Regions from separate parts of the Homo sapiens genome. Here region 1 is linked to region 2. The links come from fine-mapping of genetic effects on gene expression. Tissue or cell type: whole blood. Region 2 holds a variant in brackets; the other region holds the start of a gene. All regions are shown on one strand. Distances are between the middles of the regions.

Region 1 (7,496 bases), 180 kb after region 2:
TCACAGCACTTTGGGAGGCCAAGGCAGGCAGATCACGAGGTCAGGAGTTCGAGATCAGCCTGACCAACATGGTGAAACCCCATCTCTAGTAAAAATATAAAAATTAGCTGGGCGCAGTGGCACGTTCCTACAATCCCAGCCACTCAGGAGGCTGAGGCAGGAGAATCACTTGAACCTGGGAGGCGGAGGTTGCAGTAAGCTGAGATCATGCCATTGCACTCCAGCCTGGGAGACAGAGTGAGACTCCGTCTCAAAAATAAATAAATAAATAAAATTAAAAAACACCACACACACAAAAAAACAAATGAGGCAAATGAGATGCATGAGGTGAGAACCTTGTGCCACAGGGAGAGGCGCAGCCTGGTGAGATTTAATCCCAAGGGGCTGGCGGCTCTGAGCCCCCAAGTGTAACCACTGGACCACACTGCCTGTAGACTACCACTACCTCCACCCCATTGGAAGGCCGGGTGAGGCAATCGGGAAAGCCTGGAGCAGCAGTGGAGCTGCCAGAGAGAACCTGTCCCCAGTGTCCCCCTGGATCCTGCAGCTGCCCTGTGTGGGCCCTTGCTGCCTTCCGCATTGGAAAAGACCTTCTTACAGATGGGGTCTCATGACGCCACCCAGGCTGGAGTGCCGTGTCTATTTCCAGGCGCTGTCACAGGGCTGCAGCCTTGAACTCCTGGCTTCAAGCGATCCTCCTGTCTCAGCCTCCTGAGTAGCCTCCTGGGCTCAAGCGATCCTCGTGTCTCAGCCTCCTGAGTAGCCTCCTGGGCTCAAGCGATCCTCGTGTCTCAGCCTCCTGAGTAGCTGGGACTTCAAGCGCACCTGGCCAAGTCCCTTTTTATTCTCCACTACTCAAGACTTCTCCTTCCTCAAGGCCCAGCTCAATCTCACCTCCACCTAAAACCTCCGGGGCATTCCTGTAGTATTTGGAGGCTGAACTGCTCAGGAGGGAAGGGTGTTAATGAGCTGGTGTCTCGCCCTCATCCTGACTCCCGGTGAGAATGTAAGTTCTCTGCAGGCAAGGACTATATCTCATTACCATTTCTGTACCCACTCAGACTTGGCCATGTGTGCCCAGCACATAAAGTGTCTTCGATGACTGTCTATAGACCCACGGTACTTGAGATTGCCCCAACACATCCTTCTAAAATCTTTCTCCTTTTCAGAGGCTCACGAATGTTCAAACCAGGTCTACCGGGAACAACATTATGGTCATTCCGTTTATTCTGAAGCCCACATACAGGTCTGGAAGCAATAATCCCGCACAGTCTAGATGAAAAAATAAAGACCTTCCTGTTGTCCTTGGATTGTCAGAGCCTTGGGGGATTTTTAACATCTTTTGCTGCTTTCCTTAATTTCATGGTGTCGATGGCTTGTTGGGGGGTCAGCCTGACTCCTGCGAGTGCCCGTACCCGGAAAAGGGCTGGTGCCAAGACAGCTCCAGGACACTCAGAATGAGGGCAAGAGGCCACCCCCACCATCAGCCCCCTCCAGTCCCACTCCATACAACTGCAACACAGTGACCCAGCACACCTTGGGCCACTGCCAAGCAGGGAGCAAACCAGAAATGGTCTGAGCCCTCCCTTCCCCCATCCTCAGAGGGGCCTGCCCCTTTAGGTAAACACAAGGAGGCACCGAGGCTGCTGTACAAGAGTTGGTTCCTGCTCACTCCACAAACTCTACTTCCACCTACTGCAAAAGGTTCTGTCCTTTTTTTTAAAAAAAAAAAAAAAAAAGAAACCCAGTGAGGGGTGGGGTAGGTGTGTGTGGAGGAGAGGAGAAAAGGACAAGTGATGGTCTCCCCACCTCCCAGTAAGCCGCAGGTGCAGAGACTCCAAGCCTGCCTCAGGGCCCTTCCGGCATCTGTGCAGGAGGGTCTCCGCAGAAAAAACCCAGGACCCACGACCTGGGAGGACCCCGGTCACCCCCACTGTCTGGACCCACCAGTGGGAGGTAAAGTGTAAGAAACCAAGGGCAAAGGGCCCTCCCTGGGCGGGCTAGAGATCCCCTGGAAAGGGCCATGCACCGCGCGATCCCCACAACAATCTCAAGTATTTGGAGCATGTTGGGGAGGAAGCCCCGGTGCCAAAACCAAGCATGTGCCACCTGGAAGCCCGCTCCCGCCCACCAGCACACCAACCCACCCACGCTCCTGACAGAGCTGTGCTCCGGGTGCGTAGAGGGCCATCTTGTTCGCAACAACCGGGTGAAAGTTGAAATTCTAAGCTACTGACCCAGAAGGGTATTTTCGGGGAAGTTCTGAGTAATCCTCTTTGAGACAAGGTACTTTATCACTCATTTTGGTTCCTAAATATGGAAAGCCAGAGGAAACCGACAATGGCCCAAAGGCAGGGGGATGGCCCCGATGACTCCTTCACCTCCAACTAAGGCCCATGATTCTGTTCTCCTATCAATAAAAATTAATTCATGGATCCTTGGCAGGTACCTTTCTATCTGAATGAATTAAAGGAGGGACATTAAACAAACGGTTTCTAGATTTAGAAGAGGAGACGCTATTTATAATTTGAGGACTGAGGAGGACAAAGGATCCTGCCTGCCTGGATCCTTTGGAGAAAACCACAAAGGAAAAAAAAAAGGAAGGAAAAGACAAATAATGAAGATCTGGATTTCTCTTAACCTGCCCTTGTGGCCTCGGTGTGCCCATCTGTGAAATGGAACTTCAGAGTGCCAGAGCGGGAGCCTCTTATGAAATGAAAGCTCCTGAACCGGCTCATGGTGAGGCCCAAGTCAGGCCCCCTTCGCCTACTTAAGGCGGGCCCTGCTAGGGTGGAGTGAGGATGTCAGCCGCGGGCGGCGTCCTGAGCGCAAAACGTGAACCCGAGTCGCCAAGTTTGGGCGCTGCTGGACGGTCCCATCTGGAGGCCGTCCCGTGCCCCACTAAGTAGAGGAGAAACCGAAGAGAATCCGAAGAAAGGATGCTGCGGCCTGGACCACCAGCCCTAGAGGCTGAACCCAAGGACACCCCTCCACCTAGCCCCGACCCCATTCACCCACACAGACGCACAGGGACCCAAAGCACCCGGCCGACCTGGAAAGTCAGCGATTCCTGCGAGGGTGCAAGGGGCGAGGAAGAGGGAGCGTCCCCCAGGGCAGCCCCTCCGACACTCGAGCAAGGGCTGGAGACAGCGCAGGGGACGGTCGGCTCAGGTCGAAAGCGGCCCGACAGCGGCCCTGTCCTGGGAGGAACTCGACCTGCAGTGTGCCCGCCGCGGGGACTCGCTCAGCTCCGGGGGCGCCTCGCCACTCCCGGCCGCAGGCACTCAGGTGAGCAGCGCTGGTCCCGGGACACCGACCCCTCCCCACCCCGGGCGCGAAGCCCACCTGAGTAAGACTTCTTCATGGTGCCTCCGTGGCCGCCGCTCCCAGGAAAGTGTGGCGGCGAGGCAGCGGGGCGCGCGCTCCCAGGGCGCTAATCCTGGGCCGGTAGTAGGAAGGCGGGAAGAGGGGGCGGCCCGCCGTCTGGAGTGCACCGACCGGGCCCCGCCCCGGCCCCGCCCCCGCCCCGCCCCTCCCCGGAGATGCGCATAGAACCCCGGCCCAGCCGGCTGTGGTCCCGCCCCTGACCCGCCCCCTCCCCGCCCCGTGAACGTGCGCGCCGAGCCCCACCCCCGCCCACCCCTGCGCTGCGCTGCACCTGGCGGAGCGGGGCTGGCGGGCGCCGGGCCTGGGAGGGGGCGCCCCCGCGCGGCAGCGCAGACCAGACCAGACCAGGCCAGGCCGGGGGTGGGGGCCGCCTGCGTGGCCCGCCGCGCCCGCAGCTCTGCACCCCCAGCTCCCCGCGCTGGCGCCAATGGCTGGTTCCGGGAGTCGCCGCACTTCCCAGTCCCGAGTCCGGGCGGGGCGGGCCCGGCCAGGTGGAAGCGGGCGGAGGTGCGGGCGCTCCGGGCGGCCCCGCCGGGCGAGGCGGCGGCGCCGGGCACCGCGGCGGCGCCGGGCACAGCCGGGGGTCGGAGCCGGGGTGCCGGCTTAGTGGGCCGGGGTAGGGCGGGACAGGACACCTGTCCTGCTACTTTTCTGGTAATCAAAAGGGCAGAGTGCGTCGATTGAGTTGGAGCCTTAGTTTCCTCACCTGTAAATGGGCGCGTTGGACAGATGATCATTTGTTCTCCCTGCGCTGGGCACCGTGCGCAGCTCGGTGTATCGGTGCAGCGGGGCAGACACAGGGAGCCGCCCTTTACAACTCGGGTAACGCAGGCAGTGGTGAGAGGATGCAAAACTTGCACGGAAGAATTCTCTCTACTTGGATATCCTTAAAGTCTCCACGATAAAGCGGTGTTTCCAACGTACAGAGGAAGAAGTGACTAATTATGACTGGAGGGTGGTGTCAGAGTTTTATTGAGGCGAAATCAAAACAGGGTTTTAAGGAATGAGCAGGAATTAGCCAGGCAGCCAAGGTGATGGAAGGCAGCTGTTCCCGAAAGAGGGAAGGGCGTGGCGGAGCCTGGGAGGCCTGAGGTATCACAGCGAGTGTGGAGAGACAGAGGCAGGGCCGGGCCCTTGCACAGCTGCCAATGGAGGCCGTAGAGGACGAGAGGAAGGCGGGAGGCCAGTTGGGAAGCGCTCGCTAGTTCTGGGTAGGGGCGCAGCATTGCCTTCTCCTGCAGCCCTCCCAAAAATGCACAGGAGGCTGAAAGTGTCACTAACAGCCCCGAAAAATCCTCCTCCTCTTCCCCTCTCCTTTACTCTCCTTGGGGGTCCAAGAAGCATTTTCATTTCCTGCCTGAGTGTGGGAAACTTATATGCATGAGAACGGAGGCCTATGTGGCACCGTGGGTTCGTTCCGGCCCACCTGCTTCCTTTCTTGAGTAATCTGTCCAGCCACAGCCCTGCAGAGGGAGCAGCCCAGCCAGAGGAGTTTCCCCTCACCCCAGGTAGAGCTGATTGGACCGGAGTGGACACTGGACTTCAACTGAGTCCACCCCTTTCCTTATCTGGGGGTTAGAGGCTCAGGAGGCCTCGGGAGGGAAGTGCTGTAAGGGAGGGGAGCAGGGAGTATGGACGAATTGTGAACAGCGTCCTGGATTCTGGGATGTCCACACCCTAACCGCAACCCCCACCCACACGCCCACTCACCGCTTGTACCAGCACCAGCAGATTCCGGCTTAGGCCGTGTCCTGACTTGGCCAGCAAGCACCATGATGACACTGCCCCCAGCCTAGCCATGATGACACTGCCACGAGCCTAATGCCTGGGATTCCCAAAGTCCAGCGGTGTCTCAAGAATCTGGGTTATGGGTGCATTGCTGGCTTTGTCCATTTTACTCAGCACAAGTCAGAGGTGCCCTGGAGCACAGTCACCCTGAGGATGCCAGCCCTGGCTGTTCCCTGGCTTTGGGTAGGTGGGTTCCTCTGCGGATGCTCACGCTTCTGCCTGGGGTCACAATTCACAGGAACCTGGGCACCCAGGACCCAAGGACACCTGCGTGGAGTGATGTTGGACACATCACATGGGTGCCTCCTGTGTGATGGTTCCTGGATATCCGAATTTTCCTTCCGATTCCAAGAAATCAGAAAGAAGGACAAGAGAGAGGGAGGGAAGGCTGGGAATGAGGGTTCTACACATTTTTGAGATGCATGAAGCTTAATCTGTCATGAAATTAGAGTTAAAAAAAAAAAAGAAAAATTAAAGAGATGCACGAAGCTTAATTGTTTAAGCCTCAAATTTTGTTTTTATTTATTTATTTTTATTTTTTATTTTTTGAGAGGGAGTTTTGCCCTCGTCGCCGAGGCTGGAGTGCAATGGTGCGATCTCAGCTCACTGCAACCTCTGCCTCCCAGGTTCAAGTGATTCTCCAGCCTCAGCCTCTTGAGTAGCTGAGATTACAGGTGCCCGCCACACCTGGCTAATTTTTTTTTTTTTGTAATTTTTTTCTTTTTTAGTAGAGACAGGGTTTCACCATGTTGGCCAGGCTGGTCTCAAACTCCTAACCTGAGGTGATCCCCCCGCCTCAGCCTCCCAAAGTGCTGGGATTACAGGTGTGAGCCACCGCACCTGGTTTATTTATTTATTTATGAGACAGAGTCTCCCTCTGTCACCCAGGCTAGAGTGCAGTGGCATGATCTCAGCTCACTACAACGTCCACCTCCCGGATTCAAGCAATTCTCTTGCCTCAGCCTCCCAAGTAGCTGGGATTACAGGCACACGCCACCACAACCGGCTAATTTTTGTATTTTTAGTAGAGACGGGGTTTTGCCATGTTGGCCAGCCTGGTCTCCAACTCCTGACCTCAAGGTGATCCACCTGCCTAGGCCTCCCAAAGTGCTGGGATTACAGGTGTGAGCCACTGCGCCTGGCCTATTTTTTTTTTATTTTTTTAATTTAATTTTTATTTTTTGAGATGGAGTTTTGCTCTTGTCACCCAGGTTGGAGTTTAATGGCATGATCTTGGCTCACTGCAACCTCTGCCTCCCACATTCAAGCGATTCTCCTGCCTCAGCCTCCCAAGTAGCTGGGATTACAGGTGCCTGCTGCCACCAGGCCCGATTAATTTTTGTATTTTTAGTAGAGATGGGGTTTCACCACGTTAGCCAGGCTGGTCTCCAACTCCTGACCTCAAGTGATCTGCCTGCCTTGGCCTCCCAAAGTGCTGGGATTACAGGCATGAGCCACCACACCCGGCCTAAGCATCAAGTTTTAATTGTTTTTCACAGACAACTCTCTAAAACATATGACACAATCCCCTGCCTTGGTGAGAAGAGCATAGCAAACATATGACTCTTTCCCTCCTGGCTCAGGACCGTCACGATGGCACCTTGAACGGTTATCAACGCACACGCCGCCATCTTACTCCTTCGCAAATGTCCCCAGGCTACTGTGCTATCCAATTTTTAAAAATTGTCTTTCAAACACTCTGTTCCTCCTCCTCCTCCTCCTCCTAATTGAGTGCTTATGACCAGTTGTGTAATTTCCCCAATTCTCAGTGCCCACTCCTATGAAAGGGGAGGGCAGTACCCAACCCCCAACTCACACAGCTGGTGTGGTGATTAGAAAGCTAATGGGTCTGACGTGCCTCACTGTGCTCTGGTCACTAAAATATGAAACACATGGCATTGGCTTTAGGCGCAGGCAGTGGGCAGAAGCCTGGAGGAAGTTGGCAAGGGCTTGCAGGAAGGTTAAGAGATGATCCTGGCCCAAAAGTGCATGACCCTGCTACTCGGGAAGTTGAGGCAGGAGGATCACTTGAGCCCAGTAGGTCAAGATCACCCTGGGCAACATAGTGAGATCACATCTTTTTTTTTTTTTTTTTTTTTTTTTTTTGAGACGAAGTCTTGCTCAGTCGCCCAGGCTGGAGTGCAGTGGCGCGATCTCGGCTCACTGCAAGCTCCGCCTCCCGGGTTCACGCCATTCTCCTGCCTCAGCCTCCCGAGTAGCTGGGACTACAGGCGCCCGCCACCACGCCCGGCTCATTTTTTTTTTTTTTTTTTTAGTAGAGACGGGGTTTCACCGTGTTAGCCAGGATGGTCTCGATCACC
Region 2 (7,496 bases):
TGTCTCTACAAAAAATAAAAAATTAGCCAGGCGGGGTGGCACATGCCTGTAGTCCCAGCTACTTGGGAGTCTGAGCTGGGACTTAAGAGTGGGTTCAGAGCAGCTCCCGGGGCCGGCAGCTGGGCCCCAGCTTGAGCCCAGGAAGTCAAGGCTGCAGTGAGCCGTGATCGGGCCACTGCTCTCCAGCCTGGACGTGCGACAGAGTGAGACTTTGTCTCAAAACAAAACAAAAACCGCTCAGGCTAACGGTTTCTCTGGGTCTTCATTTCCTTATGAAGGCTCGGTGTCAAGTAAAACTTACTTGAATTGTTATGCTTGTTTCCTGTTAATCTCTGTCAGTCTAATTTCCAGGGTCCCAGCCAATGAATCCAAAACCGATAGAAGGAAAGGGTTTTTTCTCAGATTTTGTTCTGATCAGGTCTTTGTAATTTTGTGACAAAGGCCTGAAGGTCTGAATAGGAGGACACAAGGCCTGAGTGAGAGAGAATTCTTCCCGCTTAACCGCCTTCAACCTGGAACATCAGATTTTTCCTGCTTCAGACTCAAACTGACACATGCGCTTTTCCTGGGTCTCGGGACTGGAACGACGCCATTGGCTCTCCTGGGTCTTGGGCCTTCAGGTGGACACCAGAGCCGCAACATGGGCTCTCCCGTGTCTCCAGCCTGCTGATTTACTCTGCCAATCTTGGCACTTGCCAACCTCTGTAATGAGGTGAGCCAACTCCTCATAATAATAAATCTCTTTATCTAAACACACGTACACACCTTCTATTGGTTCTGTTTCTCTGGATGACCCTAATACAATCACTTTGTGAATACAGCAAAACCATTGAACTGTAGATTTTAAAAAGGTCAACGTCACAGTATGTGAATTCTATCTCCATAAAGCTATCACTTAAACAGCAACAAGAAGCTGGTGAGCCCTGTGCACTCCTCTGCAAACAAGAGCAGGGACAGCGTCGTCCTTGCCCTCGGATGTCCCCAGCCTCCAGCCCGAGTCTAGGAACATCTTTCATGTGTCCCCTCCTTCAATTCTGTAGCCCAAGGGTGGGGGCGGTCCTCAGCCTGGTACCTTCTCTGCAGCTCCTCACCCTCTCCTCACACCAGCCAATGGACACAGAGGTCCCCCCATGGATTTTTATTTTTATTTATTTATTTTTATTTTTTTGAGACAGAGTCTCACTCTGTCGTCCAGGCTGGAGTGCAGTGGTGTGATCTCGGCTCACTGCAACCTCCGCCTCCTGGATTTGAGTGATTCTCCTGCCTCAGCCTCCCGAGTAACTGGGATTACAGGCACGTGCCACCACACCCAGCCAATTTTTTGTATTTTTACTAGAGGTAGGGTTTCTCCATGTTGGCCAGGCTGGTCTCGAACTCCTGACTTCAGGTGATCCACCCGCCTCAGCCTCCCAAAGTGCTGGGATTAGAGGTGTGAGCCACCAAGCCCAGCCTCCCCACAGATTTTTAAAAGGGCCCTGGGTAACACAGACTGGGATCTGCTAAGTCACTAAATGACCCTTTTAAATAAAGAAGGAAGTCATAAACCTCCACTTAAAAGGAGTGGGGGATGGCAACAGAAACACAGCCAGTCAGAAGCCGGAAGGGTCTCACTCAACTCATCCCCAAGGTCTCTGGGCAGAAGGGACAAGGGAAAACCTGCCTCCCAAACACCCCACTCGGCACCCCACTCCCCGGATGCAAGATGCAGCTGTGCATAGCGGCAGCAGTGAGGACCCTGGCCTGGCAGGCCCCCACATCCCTTGCTGAGGGCTCCAGGGGCCAGGGCTGCTCAACAGGACCAAGAGGAAATGACCACAGGAGCCCCCAGCTGCTGGGGGTGGCCCCCGCGGTTTCCTGGGCCATTTCTGGTGAACCCACTCCAAATCTGGAAGAGGCCCAAGCCCTCTCGCTCCCCGTATCCCAAACCCCAGCCACGCCAGCCAGGAGCCTTGGGGGATGAGAAAAAATTCAATTAAGCCCCACTGTGCTGGGTGACATAGGACCCAGAAGGAGAGGGGCCCCTGGACTGCTCAAGTTTAATGATAACTTCAGCAGCTGGGTCCCCAAGTTAATTAGCTCTTTCCTCCCCAGCAGTCCTCGGGGAGCACCACGGTGAGCTGTGAGGAGCCAGCCCAGCACGGCACACACAACGTAGGGGCCTTCCCGCACTCCCACTCCACAAACACCAGGGCCCCTCGGGGGACCAGCCTCCCATCCCTGAGTCATTTCTCCCCCACCGCTCTCTCAACAAGGAACAGAGAAGGAGCTTCTACTGCTTAACCAGATGTAGAAACTGACGCACGCACAGAGAGGTCACGTGTGATATGGTTTGGACGTTGTCCCCTCCAAATCTCATGCTGAAATGTGATCCCTGATGTTGGAGGTAAGGCCTGGGGGGGGTGGGGCTTGGGTCATGGGGGTGGATCCCTCATGGATGGTTTGGTGCCCTCCCCACGGTCACAAAGTCCGGGAGATCTGATTGCTATAGAGTCTGGGAGGGCTGGGTGAGGTGGCTCACACCTGTAATCCCAGCACTTTGGGAGGCCAAGGTGGGTGGATCACAAGGTTAGGAGTTTGGGACCAGCCCGACCAACATGGTGAAACCCCATCTCTAGTAAAAATACAAAAAAATTAGCCGGGCGCGGTGGCATGCGCCTGTAATCCCAGCTACTCAGGAGGCTGAGGTTGCAGTGAGCCGAGGATTGTGCCACTGCACTCCAGCCTGGCTGACACAGCGAGACTCCATTTCAAAAAAAAAAAGAGTCTGGGAGTTCTCTCTCTCGCCATGTGACGTGCCAGCTCCCCCTTCACCTTCTACCATGAGGAAAAGCTTCCTGGGGCCTCCCCAGAAGCCAAGCAGATGCTGGCACCACTTGTACAGCCTGCAGAACCGTGAGTCAAATAACCCCCCAGCCTCGGCTATTCCTTATAGCAACTCAAAATGGACGAACACAATGTATTAGTTTCTCTTTCTGGACCCCACAGTGTGCCTGGCTGGGGCTGTGCTCTGGGGAAATGGCAACTGCGAGGTCCTCACAGACCGGGCCCGGGTCTTAACCACAGCCGCATCTCAGCGCCTTGATATTGCTGAGTGGATGCCCAAAAAGCACTGCTGGGTGAATGTGCGAGTGAATGATGAAGATGGAGGTGGCTGTTGGTGCCAGGGCAAGGCCCCAGGAGTCTGGGGAGGTGGCACCAGGCAGTTCAGGTCAACGGCTAACCCTGGACAGGGCCAGGAGGCAGCCAGAATGGTTAAGGACAGCTAAGGGACTTTAGGCAAGTGGTCTCACTCTTCCCAGGCGGGCAGGAAGCAGGAATCAGACCAAGGGGTGCCAGGTGGTAGTGGCACTCAGGGGGCCTGAGGAGCAGGTGCAGGCTCAGCAGGGCTGGTGGTGCCACGTGTGGGGCCGACCGTGGCCCCGTTCACTGCCTCCACCTCCTGGACGCATGGGCCCATGGCCCCCAAGGCCCTCCTCTGTCCCCACGCCCACCTTTCCAGGCTCCACTTCCAGACGCCAAGCCATTTTCTCACTCCCATCTCTCCCGTTGCCCCTATATCTGAGCTGACCTCCTCCCTGAGCTCTGGTGAAATTCTAGAGAGCCCAGAGGTGCAGCTCACACTCCTGCGCCACAAGGCCTTTGCAGTCTCCACCTTCCTGGGACACTCCATCTTAGAGCTGGGTGTGTACTTATCTCACTGGATCAGAAACTTCAGGAATGCCCATCTTGCATGCTCCTGCTCCCCACTTCCCGCCCGCCACTCAGCCCGTGGCTGCCATGTGGTTGGGCCTTGGCAGCCACCGCAGCTGGTAACACACAATTAGCACTTCTGTGTCCAGGTTCCGTGCTGAGCCTCTTCAGTTTCATCCCCGTTTGTCCTCAAAATGGTCCCTGACATGGTAACCATCATTATCCATTTTTCAGACAAAAGACCATAGCTCTAGGAGAGGAGGAATGGCAGGTCTGAGGCCACGTGGTTCGTAACAGGCAAATGGACCCGGCAGTCACTCTACCCTCGAGTGGGGCTCCTCCCTGTCTGCAGACCTCGCTGAGGTTTTAGAGCCTGGAGCCAGTGAGTCTCCACTGAGCACAAGGACAGCGGCGGTGCCGGGGCTGGAACAAGGCAGGGAGGGGCCTCCCAAATCACAGTCCTGGCTGTGGACCCACCTTGGGACCCCGCCCTGGCTGGGAACCTTGCTCCAGCCCACCCGGGACACCTTCCCACCCTGAGTCCTGCACTGGGCTGTGCACGGGGTCTGCTGAATGAGTGAGGGCAGGAGGGATGGTGAGCAGGGTGGAAAGCGACTATGGTGGGTAGGCTTCTGCTGGAAGCTTGAAACATTCCTGGCGAGCAGGAAAATACCAGGGGAAGAGGTTACAGCCCTCAGAAGGGCTCGCTGGGGACTGTCCTGCAGCCCTCTCATCGGGACAGGCAGAAAATCCAGCCCCCCTTCAGGGTGAGTCCAGGAAGCCTGTGGGGGCACAGGCTCTAGCTAGGGTGGCGCGTGGGTTTACCCAGGGGACGCTGCCGTGGCCCAGAGTTAGGTTAAACCTCATGTATTCTGTAAATAATTATTTATAATAAACAAGGCTTATTCACCCTCTAAGAAGAGTAAAACATTACAGGAGGCACTTTCTCACCAACTAAACACGTCATAGTGACTTCACTGCGTCACTGAGGGAGGGCACCAGGGTGCCCGGTCCAGAGTAAACTGTGGCCAGGGGGACGGGCACACTGCCAAATCGGCCAGACCTCCACCCCTGAAAATGTGGGCTAAATTCTCTTCAACAAGTTACAAGGAAATTCAGTGTGAACCCCATGTTTCCACCACTATCGGCTGTTCTGGAAGACTGGGAGGAGGGGTCTTGCCTTTTCTCCACTCTTGGTCACAGGGTTTGAGGCCACAACTTGGACTGGGACCCCAATCTCCTTCCTGGGGAA[G/C]AGGCTCATTCAGGGTGTCTGCCAAGGCCCAGCGCATAAACACGGAACTCGCTTAACGTCTGCTCCGGCACCTCTGGGCCTCCCACACTGGGTTCCCCTATCTGACCCCTCAAGCAGTGAGAGTGATGGGACATGGGGCGCCTCTAGGGGAGACTTGGGGAGATGGAGCAAGCTTCCCAGCCCAAGGTGAGGTCCCGAGGCATGGTCCATGCAGTGATGCTTCTCACGGGAGGCCTGAGGCATGACCAGGAGCTTGGAGACTCAGCAGAGGTCTGGGCATGGGACTCTCGGTACGCAGCCAGAGCGAGGGCCGAGGCTGTATGGATGCAAGCAGGTGACCCTGTGCCATCGGGTGCCATCTGTGCCGGGCCCTGTGCAGCCGTCCCCATCTCACTGAGCTTCAGGGAGGTGAGGCAACCATCCCAGGCACACAGCCCCGGGGGCAAAGGCTGGACCCAGGTGTGTCTGATTCCAGAATTCAAGAAGACAAGTAGAGGAGTCTGAGTCCCCTGAGACCGCAGTGATGGCTTAGTGCCTCAGGATGGCCAGGCTGGCTCCTGCAGCTTTAGTCAACCGTGCCCTCCTTCAGTCATCCAGGGTCCCAGCGCTGGTCCCTGAGACCTGGTACTGGCCATAGGGGCCCATCTCTGGCTGTGGACATCTAGTGCTGGTCACTGGGATCTGGTATTGGCCGTGGGGACTTGTCCTTGGCTGTGGGGACCCAGCGCTGGTCCCTGAGACCTGGTACTGGCCATGGGGACCCGTCCCTGGCTGTGGGTACCCGGTGCTGGTCCCTGAGATCTGGTACTGGCCATGGGGGCCCGTCCCTGGCTGTGGGTACCCGGTGCTGGTCCCTGAGACCTGGTACTGGCCATGGAGGCCTGTCCCTGGCTGTGGGTACCCGGTGCTGGTCCCTGAGATCTGGTACTGGCCGTGGGGGCCCATCCCTGGCTGCAGGGACTCAGTATTGTCTATGGGGTCTGTCCCTGGCTTCGGGGAGCCAGTAGTGCCTGTGGGGCCCATACCTGGTGGTGGGGACCTGGTGCTGGAGGATCCTGACAGCAAAACCACAGAGGCGACAGGTAACAGCAATCCATTAGCACAGCGTGTGGCCTGCCCTAGCCACGGCACCTTCCTCCACTCTGTGCCCTCTCACCACAAAGCCTAGTGCAGGTAACGAAGCCAAGAGGTGGAGAACCCGCAGGAGGACGCACACCACACCTGCTCCTCGTGTGGCGTCCCTGCACCCTGGGTGGCTGAGACCCCCTGCTCCTCCTCCAGGCCTCTCCGTGCCAGGTCTGCGCTGTTCTCCCTGGCCTCGGCTCCCACCCACCCGGCCCCCCAGCTACAGACAGCAGCGATTCTCCCTCCCACTCAATGGGGCCACTGTCCAGCCCATCATTAGTCTTCAGGGCTGGCAGATGACACCGGCCACGGGCAGTGTTTCCTCCGGCCCCAGCACACAAGGCACAAAAGACACCATCCTGCCCCAAGACCCTCCTAGTCACGTGGCGCATGGGAAGCGGTGCCGGGAATCTTCCAGGGCAGTCCCCTGCCCCGGGGGAGATCGTGTTCAAATCCCCGAGGAAATGCTGCTCTTTGGCCCTTTTTCTGAAAAACCCCCCAAGGAGACCTTGTGCGGAGCGTGCAGGGAGAATGGAGATTCTTGTGAGACTGTCTCGGGATAGCCTCACAGAAACCACAAACTATTTGGATAAAAGTTGAAAATCTGCGGTCACACAATGCTGACCATTCATTCAAACACTCGTTGAGCAAGCACCTATGACGTCTGGGAACTCAGGACGTGGATCGACAAGACACAATCCTCATGTCCGTTCTAGTGACAGAGAGAGAGACGGCACCATCAACCCCGCCCGCTGGGGGCCCCCTTGGAGGGGGCGTGCAGGTTCAGGGCTGAATCTGCCCAGTGGATGTGCCACCCACGTCTGCGTACCTCCTGGTCCTGTGGTGGCCCCTGGAACAAAGGCTGAGAGATAAAAGACAAGGATCTGGGGGAGGGAGGACGTCCATGCACATTCCACTGGGGACACCAGCAAGGATGACTGTTCAGTGACCATTCAGTGACCGAGTCACCTGGTGCTTGGAGCCTGGCACCCACAGAGCAGGGCGGGGGCAGCAGGCCCTGCCGGGGGCACAGGCCTGAGAAGGGAGTGCTGCCAGCCAGGCTCGACGGGACAGAGAGCGAAGGGCCCCCTTCCTGAAGGCCATGCAGAGGCCGGAGGTCAATGTCAGCAACTCCATCAACGTCAGTCCCCTGAGACCGACCCAGAGTTGGGGTTCCAAGAGCAGTCTTGGGCGCTCAGGAGCCAAGATCTCACAGAGGGTGTTCCCCACCCTTAGCTTAGGGAAAGTGACAAATCTGGAGTGCTTCTGCCCATGGTCCAACTACTGAACCCAAATGAATGCATTGACAAATCGCATTTAGTGTTATTTATAGGGAAAAGGGAGGGAAAAAAAAAAAAGAAAGAGAGCCAATCGCGTTTAGGCCGGCCGGCCAGGGGGAGGACAGATGGGCCATCACCTCTGCCACTTT

Evidence for each region. PIP is the estimated chance that this variant, and not a neighbour inherited with it, causes the effect.
Region 1: it holds the start of SEPTIN9, and the variant in region 2 is fine-mapped to the expression of SEPTIN9 in whole blood (INTERVAL, PIP above 0.99). The same link has a PIP of 0.9 or more in monocytes.

Annotation. Positions count from the first base shown.
Region 1 is chr17:77,277,404-77,284,899 of GRCh38, reverse strand. SEPTIN9 (septin 9) reads right to left here and starts at 3,401. Exons shown (of 12, transcript NM_001113491.2): 1 at 3,346-3,401. The coding sequence starts at 3,364. SEPTIN9-DT (SEPTIN9 divergent transcript) reads left to right here and starts at 3,003. Exons shown (of 3, transcript NR_136503.1): 1 at 3,003-3,288. RefSeq lists a silencer at 2,907-3,070 and an enhancer at 4,672-5,319.
Region 2 is chr17:77,454,978-77,462,473 of GRCh38, reverse strand. The region is part of intron 3 of SEPTIN9 (septin 9); the gene reads right to left. LOC105371903 (a long non-coding RNA gene) reads left to right here and starts at 1,582. Exons shown (of 3, transcript XR_934990.3): 1 at 1,582-1,627; 2 at 2,092-2,151; 3 at 2,253-5,936. RefSeq lists enhancers at 1,954-2,567, 4,907-4,986, 4,411-5,025, 5,026-5,639, 6,289-7,195 and 5 more. The variant G/C (reference allele first, on the strand shown) is at 4,943.